Linked DNA regions of Homo sapiens: region 2 is linked to region 1. Evidence: fine-mapped expression QTL. A gene starts in region 1. The other region holds a variant in brackets. All regions are shown on one strand. Distances are between the middles of the regions. Region 1 holds the start of CTTNBP2 (cortactin binding protein 2). Region 2 overlaps CTTNBP2 (cortactin binding protein 2).

The links.
Region 2: its variant is fine-mapped to the expression of CTTNBP2 in fibroblasts (GTEx, PIP above 0.99).

The regions. Positions count from the first base shown.
Region 1 is chr7:117,872,247-117,875,164 of GRCh38, reverse strand. It overlaps CTTNBP2 (cortactin binding protein 2), which reads left to right and starts at 1,724. Exons shown (of 23, transcript NM_033427.3): 1 at 1,724-1,830. The coding sequence starts at 1,750.
Region 2 is chr7:117,809,718-117,812,635 of GRCh38, reverse strand. CTTNBP2 (cortactin binding protein 2) reads left to right here. Exons shown (of 23, transcript NM_033427.3): 3 at 1,647-1,871. Among named protein-coding and RNA genes, the nearest start is that of CTTNBP2, 62 kb to the left of the region's middle. RefSeq lists enhancers at 1,227-1,973, 1,974-2,722. The variant A/G (reference allele first, on the strand shown) is at 1,566.

The sequences.
Region 1 (2,918 bases):
AACTTTTACTGTCCAGTGGTTTTCTTTAATCTTAAAGAAATCTAGTTATTCTAATATTGAGCAGTTTTAGAGAGTATACTTAATAAAGGAAAGTGGTATAATGAACAGGGATGGATATTAAAGGGATAAGTGAGGGAGTAACTATCAGAGCCAATATAAATAAATAAATAAATAAATAAATAAGTACCTGTACTCACAGGATAACCTGGAGATGATTTCTAAGCCTCTGACTTTTAGCCCCAGAGTTCTAGGTAAAGTTCTTTCTTGACCTCTCTTCTGGGAGGGAACTTTTCACAGTTTATTAATCAATCCCTTTCAGGGTCTTTGCAGAAAAGATTTTCTCTGCCCTGGTTTGTGTCATATTTGGGTCTAATTTGGAAAGTGGAGCAATTAAAGAGTCAAAACCTTTCATTAGGAGCCTGCCATTAAAAAAAGAAGAAAGAAAGAAAGAAAGAAAAAAGGAAAAAAAAAAAAAAAGCTTTGATCTGTAACCCTTGGACTGAACATTCTAGTCATTCATCTTCCAAAATTTCAAGTGCAAGATTTGGTTGTGGTTTGATTTTACGTCTTTGAGACACAGCTTGAATGTCTCAATTTGATTTTATGCATTCGACACATTTTTAGGGATCTGGTGATTTGGGAAGGGCTGTACCATATGGTCTTGGTGAGGTGATAGATTTTCACATTCTGGAAATTGGCAGCAAAGGGTAGGAACTGAATTAGATGTGGAAAGGGAAGATTAAGCGTTTGGGCCTAATTCACTCATCTCATGAAAAATCTTCTGAGACGTGTAATTCCCATAAAATCTATTTTTACAAATACGGCTTTTGTTTGATTGTTTTTGGTGTATATGTACACGTGTCCTCACACGTAGGGAGTAATTTTTTTAAATTCTCTCAAAAGTAGAGGACATGACATTTAGCTTTTAAAGCTATGACATTTAACACTTCTCAGTTAGTCCTTCAGGAGAGATCTCAGACTTAGGGGGGTCACAGAATATAAAACAGCCCGCTACACATTCCCTGAAAAGGAGATTGTATAGAAAGTTAGGAGCTGAGGGGCTGGTGCCACGTTCTAAAAGAAAACAGGACAGACAAATCGTTTTCATCTGAGAATTGTTTTTGGAGAAACACTAGAGTCAACGATAGAATAAATCAGAGCCAGGTGTGTATATATATAGGGAGGATAAAAACACCCTGGCGGCAATGAAATTTAAGAAAGAGCAATTTAAGAAGAAAGGGGTGCCCTGTGTGATTCCTCGCGGTGGGATAGAGGGAGCTGAAGTGTAGGATTTTCCCTGATCTTTCAGAGAATTCAGATTCAGGAGGCCTGACATTTAATCTGGTCTGTGCACGGATTTCTCCGGCTTGGTTGGGGTTCTGCGGAATGCAACGCTCCTCGGGCGCTTTCTGCCTTCACCTCTTCCGTGGTCTTTGATCCCCAGTCCCCGCGCAGGGCCGCAGCGGAGCCAGGTCGTGCGCCCATTTCTCGCACCTCCACGAGCCCGCGGCTGGCGCCACCGGGCGCGGGACGCGGGGCGCGGGGCGGGACCGAGGCGGGGCGCTCCGGCGCGCAGCGGGTTAAGCGGCGAGGGCGGTGGCGAGGGGCGGAGGGAGTGCCGCGGCTCCCGGCTCCCGGCTCCAGGCGCCCGCGTCCCGGACAGCAGCGGGTTAAGTGCCGCCCGCGCGGAGACGGCTGAGTCCGGAGCCGCGGCTCCGAGCTCGCATTCGGATCCGCTAGAGCAGGAAGATGGCGACGGACGGCGCGAGCTGCGAGCCCGACTTGTCCCGGGCCCCGGAGGACGCGGCGGGGGCCGCGGCGGAGGCGGCGGTAACCGAGTTCCCGGGGCGGGCGCGGGGCTAGTGTAGACGCGGGCCGGGGGCGGCGCCGGGGTCCCAGCCGGACCCGACTTCGCACCCCCGGGGCGTTCCGTAAGCCCGGGACTCTCCGGTGCCCCTTCATCGGGGCCCCCCTTCCTCGGGATGCCCACACGGCGGAGGCCGCGGGGGGGAGCGGAGCGGCCACCCTGGCTGGGGATCCCTCCTGTCCCTTCCGCGCCCCACGGGAAGCGGCCCCGGGTCGCCCGGTTCTCCCAGCTCCCTGTCTGCGTCCAGTGCGACCCCTATGCCCACTCCCTCCGCTGCGGTCGCTTCTGGCCGGGGGAGAAGGCTGGGACGTGTTTCCTGGCGAATTTGACCCCCCATTGTTCACCTCTCGCTGCGCGCGTGGTTGCCAGCGCGTGTCTCGGGGGTGCCTGGTACCGCTCAGCGGACCCGGGAGAGCAGCTTGGGGGAGGTGGGCCATCGCCCAGCAGGTGTGGGGATGCCCATTGTGTGCATCTGGTCCTGTGCCTTCGGGAGGCCCACTGGGAGAGGGCCGTGTCCAGATGTGGGCGCTGCTGCCGCTGAGGCCAGCGCTTTAGGTCCTAGCAGCCTGCTGCCCCATTACTTGGTGGTAGTGATTGGGGTGGGGTGGATGGATTGGTTCTTCCCGAGACGATGCTCAGGAGAGGTGGAGGTTCTGCACCTGGTTTCAAGACATTGTTCTCCTTCTCTGGAGTCTAGAGGCCGAATGCGCTACCATTCTTGACTGGTCCTTACTTTCACCCCCTTAATATTCCGGTGTAGAGACTCGCTGGTGGTTTCCAGCCTCTACTTTGGGGAAGGGCTGGACCCACATTTCCTGGGTGGAAAAGGTTCTCGGTGTTTGGGAAGCAGCTTCGCAGGAGCTGCAAGGAGCTGCAGAGAAAGGCAGATCTGGGAGCGCCTCCCACTCTTGGCCAGATCTGGCTGCTCCCGCCGAAGGATGGGGTGGGATGGAGCGAGCGGGGCGTGGACGCCCCCCTCTTCCTATCAAGACCTGAGCAGAATCAGTGCAGGAGAGGGCAGGGCCGGGCGTAAACAGCGGGGGCCGCTTTA
Region 2 (2,918 bases), 63 kb after region 1:
TTTAGCTCATAAACCTTACCTTTTAAGTTTAAAGTGGTCTTCTGAAAGCTAGCTTAAATTTAATTGTGAAACTGGACTTTTTGTAAATTTTATTTATTAATCTAAGTTGATGATAAGGAAAGAAATGTTAGATTTTTCCCATTTGTCATTAGATTTGTGTTTATCTAGTTGTTGGCTTGCTGATAGTGGCCTAAAATGGAAAAGTGTAGTTTTCCAATTCAGTTCCCTTTAAAGTATGGAACTGTATGCATTAATAATATTTCTTCAGAAGACATGTTTAATGTTTTGGACAAATAAGCTTGATTTATTATAACTTAATTTTTTTACTGGCAGTGACATAGATTTTTTTTCATTCTAGTGGCTATTCCAAAATGACCTGAATTAGGAAAATGTTGCTAGCTTTTAATACATTTCTACTGCTATTTTCCATTTTTATGCAATGACTTTGTAGGCTAATTATAGAAAATTGCATTTGGTCCTCATTGCGTGGGTGTGAAATTAACTTTGTCGCTGATGGACTGACATTTAGAGTATAATTAAGTTGCATACTTTCCTGGGATTCTGTGAACTATATTTTAATGCCCTTCAGTGAGAAAGAGATAGATGCCTTTTAAAGTTTTTTGAAGGCTGTTGTAGTTGGTCAAATTTTACAAACTACGAATATTGTTATTTATTTTTACATTAAAAATTTTAATTTTTTTAATTAAAATTTTTACATTAAAATTTTAATTTAATTAAAATTTTTACATTAAAATTTTAATTTAATTAAAATTTTTACATTAAAATTTTAATTTAATTAAAATTTTAATTTAATTAAAATTTTTACATTAAAAATTTCACAAAGAATTTTCTTCTTACCAGACATCCATGTGATTTCCTTCTGGCTATAAAAAACCTATAGGGGATTTTTTGTATGCGTGATTTAACCTGATATTATTTTAAATGTAAGTTCTATCGATATAGAGATAATTTTATTTTTGAACTTTAGCTAAAAATTATTTTAATTGTCAATATTTCTGATTTTACATTAAATTAGAAAAGACTAGGTGGGGCATGGTGGCTCCCAGCACTTTGGGAGGCCAAGGCTGGGGGATTACTTGAGCCCAGGAGTTTGAGACCAGCCTGGACAACAAAGTGAGATCCCATCTTAATTAAAAAATCAAAAAAATTAGCTGGGTGTGGTGGCATGCACCTATAGTTCCAGCTATAAGACAGGCTGAGGCAGGAGGATTGTTTGAGCCCAGGAGGTTGAGACTGCAGTGAGCTGTGATTGTGCCACTGCATTCCAGCCTGGATGACAGAGCAAGACCCTGTTGGGCGGGGTGGAGGGGTGGGGGTGTAAAAAAAGACTGCTGCTTAAATTCTGATCCTTGAGGAGTAGGGCACCATAGGAAATAACTATATTTGCATCATTTGTAATGTAAAATTCAATATTCTTGAAGAAAATTTGAAAGCAGATGGAATGGCATTCCAGGCTAGTGGAGACTGGGGGTCACATTTGCCTCTCACTCACCACTGACATCATAAGCCATTACTCACAGCAGTTGAGAATACCATTTGGAAGT[A/G]TAATCACAAAACCTTCTTATAAATATCTTTCTGTATATTTTCATTTCTTTCTTCAATACATTTCTCTAATTTTGTTCCAGGCTCGCAGGAAGGAGGTATTTATCCAGGAACGGTATGGGAGATTTAATCTAAATGACCCGTTCCTGGCACTCCAGAGAGACTATGAAGCAGGTGCTGGTGACAAAGAGAAGAAGCCAGTTTGTACCAACCCCCTCTCCATCCTTGAAGCAGTCATGGCCCACTGCAAGAAAATGCAAGAAAGGATGTCCGCACAGCTGGCTGCTGCTGAGAGCAGACAAAAGAAGGTATTGAGGCGTTCAAATGGTCATTTTCCCCACAACATGGTGTCCAATGAGGAGATCACCTCCAAAGTTGTTTGTTCTTCAGTATTATATTTTCAGACAGGATTGCAATAAGTACTTAGAAGTGCAAGAGGCTGACAGATTCTTTAAGCCAATGTAACCTAGTGTTTAAAGTGTAACTCAAAATAACACTAAACCATAAAGGAAGTATAACAGAAAAATTATGTTTCTGATAATGGTTACTTTGATACTTTCTTTAAAATCTCTCTCTATATATATGTTTTTGGACTTCCTAGTGCCTTCTAGAAAACATGCTTAGCTGCTAGGTAGGTTAATCCAGTGATGCAACCAGGACTCTTTGATCATATAGTAACATCCCAACTTACTGTATCTAGCTTCTGTCTAAAATAGTTATTTGCAATTAGAAATTATTTTATTATTTCTTAATTTTGGCGGGGGGAAATGAAAATAACATGAAGAAAATGGAATGCATGTTTGCGTGGTATGTCCAGTCTCACAATGTGTCATCTTAAAGTCCTGGTTAGTGTCAGACTCACCTCTGGGGTGTGATAGCTGTGTCAGCTGCAGACCTCAAGCCTCCTGCTCACATGTGTTTCATTTAAACCAACCTCCTCCTCCTCTCCCCCTCCCCCACCATCACACACATATTCCTTTCACTTGAGTATCTGCTTCAAAGAGTACAAAGTTCAATGAAAACTTGTGGTGATAATAAGGAAATAAGTAAATAGAAATTTAAATTTTGCCCTTCTAATATGCTGCCAAGACTATCGATGCCTTTTATTAGAAAAGAGAGTGAGAAAGCTAGAAGCTCATGCTGTGTGGTTTGATTAAAATTAAAACTAATATGTTCTCTCCACCATTATTATTAAAGCATAAATTAAAATGTTTCTTTTATTTGGCCTCTTCAGAGAACTTCTGATATCTCATATGTAACACCTAGTTGATGGTTAACCTGAATGCACTATACTTATAAATATTTATGATACATATTGTCATTTCATGCGTGTCTTTTCCCTGAAATTTCATCTT